Linked DNA regions of Homo sapiens: region 1 is linked to region 2. The links come from fine-mapping of genetic effects on gene expression. A gene starts in region 2. The other region holds a variant in brackets. All regions are shown on one strand. Distances are from middle to middle.

Evidence for each region. PIP is the estimated chance that this variant, and not a neighbour inherited with it, causes the effect.
Region 1: its variant is the best candidate, but not a certain one, in a credible set for the expression of CCSER2 in whole blood (TOPMed, PIP 0.61).

The regions. Positions count from the first base shown.
Region 1 is chr10:84,576,548-84,581,931 of GRCh38, reverse strand. No RefSeq gene overlaps it. Among named protein-coding and RNA genes, the nearest start is that of CCSER2, 250 kb to the right of the region's middle. The variant A/G (reference allele first, on the strand shown) is at 2,843.
Region 2 is chr10:84,325,570-84,330,953 of GRCh38, reverse strand. It overlaps CCSER2 (coiled-coil serine rich protein 2), which reads right to left and starts at 2,365. Exons shown (of 10, transcript NM_001284240.2): 1 at 2,146-2,365. RefSeq lists enhancers at 345-424, 1,472-1,821 and a silencer at 1,872-2,601.

The DNA of each region.
Region 1 (5,384 bases), 250 kb before region 2:
CACTATTACCTCATGTACTTACCATTTTTGTGGTGAGAACACTTAAAATCTCTCTTAGCAATTTTCAATTATACTTGTTATTAACTATAATCACCACATTGTACAAAAGATCTCCTGAATGTATACCTCCCATGTAACTAAAATTTTGTACCCTTTGACCAATATCTTCATATTCTCCCTCTCCTTTTTTAGGTTTCACATGTAAGTGAAATGCAGGATATGTCTTTCTGTCCCTGACGTACTTTAACATTATGACCTCCAGTTCCAACCTTTTTGCTAGAAATGACAGGAGTTCATCCTTTTTTTTTTTTGAGACTGGGGGTCTCGCTCTGTCACCCAGGCTGGAGTGCAGTGGCACAATCTCAGCTCACTGCAAGCTCTGCCTCCCAGGTTCACGCCATTCTCCTGCCTCAGTCTCCCAAGCAGCTGGTACTACAGGTGCCTGCCACCAAGCCTGGCTAATTTTTTTGTATTTTTAATACAGACGGGGTTTCACAGTGTTAGCTAAGATGGTCTCGATCTCCTGACCTCGTGATCTGCTGGCCTCGACCTCCCAAAGTGCTGGGATTACAGGCATGAGCCACCGTACCCGGCCTGATTTCATCCTTTTTATGGCTGACTAGTATTCCATTGTGTACATAAGACATATTTTATTTATCCATTCATCCACTGGTGAACACTTAGGTTGATTCTGTATCTTGGCTATTGTGAATAGTGCTGCAATCAACATGGGAGTATACATACCTCTTTGGTATAAGGATTTCATTTCCTTTGGATATATACCCAGAAGTGGAATTGCTAGATCATATGGTAATTCTATTTTTAATTTGTTGGGGGACCCCCTGCTATTTTCCAGAAAGCCTGTACTAATCTACATTCTCACCAACAATGTGCAGGAGTTCCCTTTTCTGCACATCCTAAACAACATTTGTTATCTTTTGTCTTTTTGATTAAAGCCCTTCTAAAATATGTGAAGTCGTATTTCACTGTGGCTTGAATTTGCATTTCTCCAATGATTCATGATGTTGAGCATTTTTTCATACATTTTTACATACACATTTGGCCATTCGTGTGTCTTCTTTTGAAAAATGTCTATTCAAGTCTTTTGTCCATTTATTAATCTCATTATTTGTTGTCTTGCTGTTGTTCGAGTTCTTTATATATTTTGGACGTTAACTCCTTATCAGAAGTGTGGTTTGCAAATATTTCCTCCCATTCTGCAGGTTGTCTCTTCACTCTACTGATTGTTCCATTGGCTGTGCAGAAGCTTTTTAGTTCGATGTAATCCTATTTGTCTATTTTCACTTTTGTTACCTGTGTTTTGGGTGTCATATGCAAGTAATCTTCGCCCAGACTAATGTCATGGAGCTTTTCCCCTATGTTTTCTTCTAGTAGATTTACAGTTTCAGGTCTTACGTTTAAGTCTTTAATCCATTTTGAGTTTATTTTTATATGGTGAGAGATAGGGGTTGTGAGTGCCTTTTCCTTATAGCTCTTTTATTTGTCTCACAGTTTCAGATGATTTGACACCCCCTTTTCTTAGGCACTTGGCACAGACCATCTGAGGACTGGTTAGGAGACAATAGATGTAATACTGATTGGCCTCACTCAAGATTGTCACTCAATACTGGCCCTGCACAGAGTCCCTGAGCCTTGGAGTACTTGGGATTCATACTTCTGTCAGAGCTGCTGGGCTGCTTTCTTCCCCATAGTACACATTGCCCAGAAGGCCACCAGGAGGAGGAGACTGGAAAGAGGAGATGGAGGAGGAAGAATAACAACAGACGATTTGCCAAGCTCTGCCTCATCCCCGTAGTGGACTGCAGCAGCATCCTACCCCACATGGGTGATCTCAAAGACAGTCAAAAATAACCATCCTCACAGCTGCCAAAGCTTTGAGAGGAACATTTACTGTCCAGTTGCCTAAAAGAAAACATGAAGATGCACAGATGTCCAGTCTGCTGACTGTTCAGAAACCACTAGTCACTTCTACTAGTACTGCAGCATTGACCTTGGGTCTTCATTCACCTCTTCCCCAATGGAAGCCAGGGACAGCCTTCTGGTCATTGGCAGTAGAGAACAAGCCCATTAACAATGTTTGGTCTGAAGTGGCTTCTGTTGTGTGGGAAACTTAAAGGTCACAAAACATTAAATGTAGAATATCAAGCTAGGAAAGAGTGCATGTCGGGGAGGCAGAGAAATAATAAACACATTGAATATTTTCCCTTCATGCCTTTCATTATTTGACGAGTTGGAGCTTGTGAAACTTACGCAGCTCCAAACGATCTCAATAGTTATCAGTGAGAGAGTTCTACAGGTATTGGGTATGTTTGGCTATTATCTCAAGTACCATGCATTGCAGGTCTCTAGATTGAACATCCATTTCCCTTGTTCTTCTCTGCTCATTCCAGCTTGCTGATAATTTTACACCCAGTACTTTCATTTGACTGGTATTAAGGGACTCTTCATTCTTCTCTTCCCCAAGTATTCTTCTCTTCATTCAATACGTTCTGCCCATCCTCATGATTCCAGCATTTCATTCAACCATCTGCATTTATTTTATCTCCTCTCTAATACTTTACTTTCATTTCTCCCACAGTTTCTCCAAGTTCTCACACATGGTAAAAGAAGCTCTTTATCTCTTGAAACATTTAAGTCCTTGACTAAAGAAACATGCTCTCAAAAAGCACAAAACTATTTGATTAAATAAACTCTCAAAAATATAGCATTAATATAAATACTTGTATACTCTCATTTTTTTTCAAAATTGGAAGACATTTATTTCTCACTAAGTTTCAATTGTTGGCATACTTAAATACAGCCTACCCCTACCCTCATATAT[A/G]TACACATATATATTCTACATATACAAACATATGTATACACATACACACACACACATATATACAGTCATGCATCACTCAACCATGGGGATATATTCTGAGATGTGTCTTTAGGCCATTTTGTCATTGTGCAGACATCATAGAGTGTACTCACACTAAATGATATAACCTACTATGCACCTAGGCTATATGGTATAACCTGCTGCTCCTAGGCTAAAAACCTGCACAGCATGTTAGAATACTGTAGGCAATTGTAAATAACACAATGGTAAGTATCTGAATCCAAACATAGAACTGGAACTGTAAAAAATACAGTATAAAAGATAAAAATGGCACACCTGTGTAGGGTACTTACCATGAATGGAGCTTGCAGGAGTAAAAGTTGCTCTGGGTGGGTCTCAGATATTCCCTTATAGCAAAACAAGAATGGCTTAATAAAGTTGTCTGTTTATTAAGTTGTATAGACTCTGGATACAAGTCCCTTATCAGACATATGATTTGCAAGTATTTTCTCCCATTCTGTGGGTTCTCTTTTCAATTTCTGGATAGTATCTTTGAAGTATAAGTTTTTCATTTTGATGACATCTAATTTATCTATTTTTTGTTGTTGTTGCTTATGCTTTTAGTGTTATATTTTTTTCTTTACAGAGGTAATCAAGTTACAGTGCTATATTTAATAAACCATTGTCTAACCCGAGGTCATGAAGATTTACCCCTATGTTTTCACCTAAGGGTGTAATAGTTTCTCTAACATTTAGATCTGTGGTCCATTTTATGTTAGTTATATATATATTGTGTGAGATAAGGTGTTCAACTTCATTTTTTTTGCATGTGGATATCCAGTTGTCCCAGCAAAATTTCTTGAAAAGACTATTCTTTCCTTCATTAAATTGTCTGGGAAGCCTTGTTAAAAATCAATTGACCGTACATATAATGGGTTATTTCTGCATTCTAATTCTATTTCATTGATCTATATGTCTATCCTTATGGCAGTACCACACTGTCTTGGTGACTGTAACTTTAGAGTCAGTTTTAAAATTGAAAACTGTGAATCTTCAAACTTTGTTCTTATTTTTCAAGATTGTTTTGAATATTCTGGGTTCCTGGCATTTTCATATAAATTTTAAGATCAACTTGTCAATTTCTGGGGGGAAAAAACAGCTGGTACTTTAATTGGAATTGTGTAGAATCTGTAGAACAATTTGAGGAGTATTGCCATCTAAATAATACTATCTTTCAATCCATGAACATAGAACGTCCTTCCATTGATTTAGGTTTTATTTAGTTTATTTCAACAACATTCTGTAGTTTTTAGTGTAGAAGTCTTGTGCTTTATTGTGAAAATTATTCCTGAGTCTTATATTATTTTTGATGTTACTACAAATGAAATTTTTAAATTTCATTTTTTGATTATTCATTCCTAGCATATAGACCTACAATTGAGGCCAGGTGCAGTGGCTTATGCCTGTAATGCCAGCATGTTGGGAGGTGAGGCAGAAAGATTGCTTGAGCTCAGGAGTCTGAGACCAGCCTGGGCAACATAGAGAGATCTCATCTCTACTGGAAAAAAAAAAATGTTTTCAATTAGCCAGGCACAGTGTCACACACCTGTAATCCCAGCTACTTGGGAGGCTGAGCCAGGAGGATAAGTTGAGCCTGGGAGATAGAGGCTGCAGTGAGCTATGATCATGCCACTACCCTTCAGCCTGGGTGACAGAGTGAGACCTCACTTAAAAAAAAAAAAAAGAAATACAGTTGACTTTTACACATTAATCTTGCAATACATTAATCCTGCAATAATTCTGAACTTATTAGTTCTAACAGTTTTGTGTGTATGGATTACTTAAGATTTTCTATATACAAGATTATGGCATCTGCAATTATAGTTTTACTTATTTTTTTCCAGACTGGATGCCATTTAGTTTATTTTCTTGCCTAATCCACTGGCATGATCCTGCAGCACAATGTTCAATAGATGTTATAAGAGCAAACTTCCTTGTCTTGTTACTGATCTTAGTGAGAAAGCATCCAGTATATCATTATTCAGTGTGATGTCAGTTACGGATTTTTTTGTCAATGCCCTTTATCATGCAAAGAAAGTTCCTTTCTATTGCTACTTTGTTCTCTATATGTCATAAAATAGTGAAATGATTTTGTGAGATTTTGTAAAATGATTTTTCTATGTCTATTAATATCACTATGGTTTTAAAATTCTATTCACATGGTTTAGTACATGGACTGATTGTTTTAAAATGTTAAACCAACCTTGCATTCCTAGGATAAATCCCACTTGGTCATGGCATATAATCCTTTTTAAATATTCCTGGATTTGGTTTAACAGTATTATATGGAAGACTTTTGCATCTATACTCATAAAAGATATTAATTTGTAGCCTCATTTTCCTATGATGTCTCTTATTGGTTTGGATATAAGGGTTATGCTAGCCTCATAGAATGGGTTGGGAAGTTTAATATCCTCTTTTATTTTTTGGAAGAGTTCATAAAGGATTTGTATTTATTATTTAAACGTTTGGTTGGATTAAA
Region 2 (5,384 bases):
AAAGACCTGGACTGTAATCCCCGCCATCCCTTTCTACCTGCGTGACTTTGCGCCTCAAAATAAAGTTGTAGGACCAATGAAGCAGCAATCTTTATTGGTCATGCCCTTTTTATTCCTGTATCATAAAATGGATTTTTTTTAACATAACTGGGGTTTCATTCCTAACCAGCCTACAATCCCAGCACTTTGGGAGGCCGAGGTGGGCGGATCACGAGGTCAGGAGTTTGAGACCAGTCTGGCCAACATACTGAAACCCGTCTCTACTAAAAAAAAATTAGCCAGGTGTGGTGGTGTGTGCCTATAATTCCAGCTACTCAGGAGGCTGAGGCAAGAGAATCGCATGAACCCAGGAAGCAGAAGTTGCAGTGAGCCGAGATGAGGCCATTGCACTCCAGCCCAGGCCACAGTGCAAGACTCTGTCTCAAAAAACACAAAAGAAACCCCAAAACCTGGTGGAGACAGACACATAAACAAATCATTAACTACCAGTTGACAAATACTAACTGGAGAGTGTACGAATCAGTTAAGACAAGAGGGATGAAATGTCTAGACAAGCCTCAGAAGTGCTACTTTCGTAAGGTCTTCAAGGGCAAGTTGTTTACTAGGTAGAGAATTCTCAACAAAGAACACTGAAAAACCACAGAGGAAGATGTCATCTTCAGAGAACTGCAACAGTCTTATATAGAGAGGGCAGGCATAATGGTAGAAGATGACACTAGAATGGAGACAAATACCGCTAATCATGAAGGACTTTGAATTTTATCGATATAGACTATGGAGAGTCACTGAAGGACTTGTAAATATGGATTCAAAGTCCCTTCCTCCAAAATAGTCAAAGGAGTTGAGTCAAAGCAACAAAAAATGCAGGTCTGAATGTGGAAAGGTAGAATTTTTACAGAATTCTTAATAGAGACTTTCGGCTTGCTTTCAGGATGGCTTCTAGTGCTTTCTTAACTATGGCTTATGCTGAAGTACGACAGTATGAATTATGGCTAAAGGGTTCAACAAAGTGTGCATTTTTAACCTGAAGATTATTTGAAGCCAATGTTGTTTAGAACACAAACGAAAACAAAAAATAACAGTAACAAGCTTTCATAAATTAAGAGAAACAGTAATAAAGTCCAAGAGGAAGAAGACTGATTTCAGGCAAACACTCAGGAATATTTACATTTTTATCACATATGGATGACGGATAAGACATGTTTTGAACCCATCTTTTGCAGGAGAGCATCTTAAGTTCCTTTTGGTTAAAGAGCAGCTGCCATCTCTAAAGTCTCTAGTCTAAAAGATGATGCTTTAAAAAAAACAACTGGCCAAATGAATAGGTTCCGTCATATTTTAATGCTCAGGAGAAAAGGAATGCTTTTCATATGGCTATTTTAAAAAGCTTAAAGCTCAATTTCTCTCTTACAGGAGTGAGCTACCAACACTCTAATCTGAGACCAGAGTCCCTGCGTCAGTCATTTCCACTCCGCTAAGGCCTTGTCTGGGAGCAGCCAGCCTCATTGGTCGGGGAGCCCACACAGATGAATATGCAATTACTGAAATGGAAACAAGCTTCGCCACCAAGGACCACCACAAAGGAGTCCCTTCATTCCTCCTTTTACTTTATCAAGAAAGTAGGTGCATTATTTAAAAATGTATGAAAATACATGTCTAAAGACAAGAGAGAAGATCTGAACCTACGGCAACGGTGTGCCCCACCAAAGTTTCACCTCAGGATGTGTTTTAGGGTGTGTCTTTCATTTAGCCCAGTAATTGAAAGAAAAAAAAAATCGAACTCATTCGGGGAGCCCCGGTACTTTCCCTATCCACCCTCACACGCAACCAGGCTCCGAAATCAGAGTGCCTCAGCCTCGCCCTGATTTCTCCTGAAAGGCGGCGGCGCCCGCGGCCCGAGGCCCCGCGCTGTCACAGCCGCAGGGAGGGCGCCCTCCGGCCTCCCGGGTCCGCGCCCGCCCCGCGTCCGGCGGCTCGCGAGGGGCTAGAGAGGCTCACCCTGGAGGCCGGGTACGGGAGGGCGACACCGCCTCAGCCCGGGAGTTCGGGCCTCCGCCCCGCCCCGGACTGCGTGCCTGGTCTTGGGCTGCCCCCGGCGCCCGCCGCGACCCCGGCCCCGGCTCTGGCCCTGAGCCCGGATCTCACCGTGCGGAGGTCGCGCTGCCTCCTCGGCCGCGGCCCAGCTGCAGGCCGCCCTGCGACCTGCGGGCCCGAGGACGGAAGGTGAGACGAAGGGCCGCCCGTCACATCCCCGCCAGCCCCGCCGCCCGAGCCGCAGCAACCAGCATCGCGTCCGCGGCCTGAGGGAGCGCCGGACTCCAAAGCCGCCGCGCCCCCTCCCTCGGCCGGCGCCCGCCCGGACTCCGCCCTCCAGGGCCGGCGCACCGCGCACGCGCAGTCCCGCCCCGCCGCGGGCCCGTGCGCAGGCGCGAGCCTCACGGGGCTACGGGGACCGCCCCCACCGCCTGATCCGGCCTCAGCCCACCTCTGGCCCCGCCCCGCCCTCACGCCAGGCTTTCCCAAGCTCCGCCTCCGCTTCGGGCCCCGCCCCCTCCACTGACCTTGCCTGGCCGCCTCCTGACTCAGGTTTTTGCTGGGCCCACGCAGTGACGCCAGTCTTGCGGCTGACCTCACCTCTAGCCGTCCCCTGGACTACATTTGCTGCTTGAGTGCGGTCAAACCTGACAGCTCCTCCTCCTGGATGTGAAAAGTGAGGAGTGGTCTGAGCATTGGGCATGACTGAACCACGCACCTGCCTACCGCATCAAAACACAGGATCTTGCTAAAGCTGAGGGGAAGGGGCACCCCAAGTGCTGATCTGGTTTTCCCTTTTTTTTTTTTTTTTTGAAACAGAGTCTCGCCCTGTCACCCAGGTTGGAGTTCGGTGGCGCTATCACAGCTCACTTGCAGCCTCCTGGGCTTAAGCGATCCTCTCGCCTCAGGCGTGTATCACCAAGCCTCCGAAATAATTACAACTAAGACCACACTAGTCAAAGTAAACTATCACAAGTTGACCCAAATACCCGGCTAATTTTTATTTTTTCTTTTTAGAGTTGGGGGAAGTGGTCTTACAGGCTAGTCTCAAACTCCTGGGCTCAAGCAATCCTCCCACCTTGGCCTCCCAAAGTGTTGGGATTACAGGCGTGAGCCACAGCTCCTGGCCAATGTGGTTTCTTTGCCAGAAACCAGGTCTTTCTTCCCTTTGGGGCTTCCATCCCCCAGAGGCCATCTCTTCCCCTCTTGTTTTTCCTCGACGCGGCCAGTCCTGCTGCTGAGAGTCCTCAGCCTGGAAGGCTTCCGGGCCTGGCCGGCTGTTTAAAGCTCTGGAGTTGCCCTTACCTGGTTGTAGACTTGCAGTTCTCTGAAATCCTCGTCGGCCCCAACAGCTCGGTTGTAATAACATTTCAGGAGAACTGCTTGAAAAATATCCAGTTCTTTCCTGTCTCCAGATCAATGATACTCAAATGGAAAAAGCAGACGGAATGCCTGATTTGTATAACCACACTTCATTTAATAATACACTTTCATATTTAGAAAATAATGTCTTTTAAATATCAATCCCTAAGATATTTAATGTATTGGACAATAATGTGTGCTTAAAATATTGACAAAGACTAGGTCTAAATGCTGTGCAATCTCTCTTTGGATTAAGTGAGATTAGAAAAGCAAACACCAGGCCGGAGGCGATGGCTCAAGCCTGTAACCCCAGCACTTTGGGAGGCCAAGGTGGGAGGATCACAAGGTCAGGAGTTCAAGACCAGGCTGGCCAATATGGTGAAATCCCGTCTCTACTAAAAATACCAACAAATTAGCCGGGCGTGGTGGCGCATTCCTGTAATCCCAGCTACTTAGGAGGCTGACGCAGGAGAATTGCTTGAACCTGGGAGGTGGAGGTTGCGGTGAGATGAGATCATGCCACTGCACTCCAGCCTGGGCGGCAGAGTGAGACTCCATCTCAAAAATAAAATAAAATAAAATAAAATGCCCAGGCCAGTTGTGGTGGCTCACGACTGTAACCTCAACACTTTGAGAGGCTGAGGCGGGAGGATCACTTGAGCCTAGGAGTTCAAGATCAGCCTGGGCAACATAGAGACCTAGTCTATTAAAAAAAAAAGAAATTAACCAGGCTTAGTGGCATATGCCTGTAGTTCCAGCTATTCAGAAGGCTGAGGCAGTAAGATTACTTAAGCCCAGGAGGTTGAGACTACAGTGAGCTGTGATCATGTCACTGCACTCCAGCCTGAGTGACAGAGCAAGACCCTGTCTCCAAAAAAAAAAAAAAAAAAAAAGAAGGCTAGGAAAAAACTTTCCCATAATGCTAATACATGTACATACTTAGCAGAATCACAATAGCATTTTAGTGTATTTTCCTAATTTTATAAGCATCCTTGATACGTTTTATTTGCTTTCAGTTAATTTTCCTGGGTCTTTTCTTTTTTTTTTGAGATGGAATCTTGCTCTGTCACCCACACTGGAGTGCAGTGGTGAGATCTGGGCTCACTGCAGCCTCCACCTCCCAGGTTCTGCGATTCTCCTGCCTCAGCCTTCCAAATAGCTGGGATTACAGGCATGTGCCACCACGCCGAGCTAATTTTTGTATTTTTAATAGAGACAGGATTTCACCATGTTGGCCAGGCTGGCCTCAAACTCTTGACCTCAAGTGATCCGCCCGCTTCGGCCTCTGCTGGGATTACAGGTGTGAGCTACCGTGCCCGGCCTGCCCTTCCTCCATCTTCAAAACCTGCAAGAGTAGTTTGAGTCCTTCCCACATTGCATCACTCTGACCTCCTCTTCTGTCTCAGTCTTCCACTTTTAAGGACACATGATTATGTTGGGTCCAACTGGATGCTCTAGAATAAGAACCTTATTTTAAGGCCAGTTGATTAACAGCCTTAATTCCATCTGCAACCTAAATTCTCCTTTTTTGGCATCCTCTTGATGTAAGAGAGAGACATTCTTTCAGGGGAAGTTTTAGGATTCCATGACAAACAGCACAATGAAACAGTTGATCCAGAGCCCCAGTAGGAGATGATTCTGGAGACCATCCAAAAACAGACAAGTTGGGTGCAGTCCCACACACCTGTAATTCCAGCTACTTGTGAGGTTGAGGCTGGAGGATTGCCTGAGGCCAGGAGTTCAAGCCCCACCTGGGCAACATAGCAAGACCCTGTCTCTAAGAAAAAAAAAAATACAACAGACAAGAATCTCTGATGAAATCTCCTGGCTAGGCATGGTGGCTCAAGCAAGAGCTTTGGGTGGCCAAGGCAGGAGGATAACTTGAGGCCAGGAGTGTGACCAGCCTGGGCAACATGGTGAGAACCCCCCATCTCTACAAAAATAAAAAATAATAAAAGTTAGCTGGATGTAGTGGTGCACACTTGTAG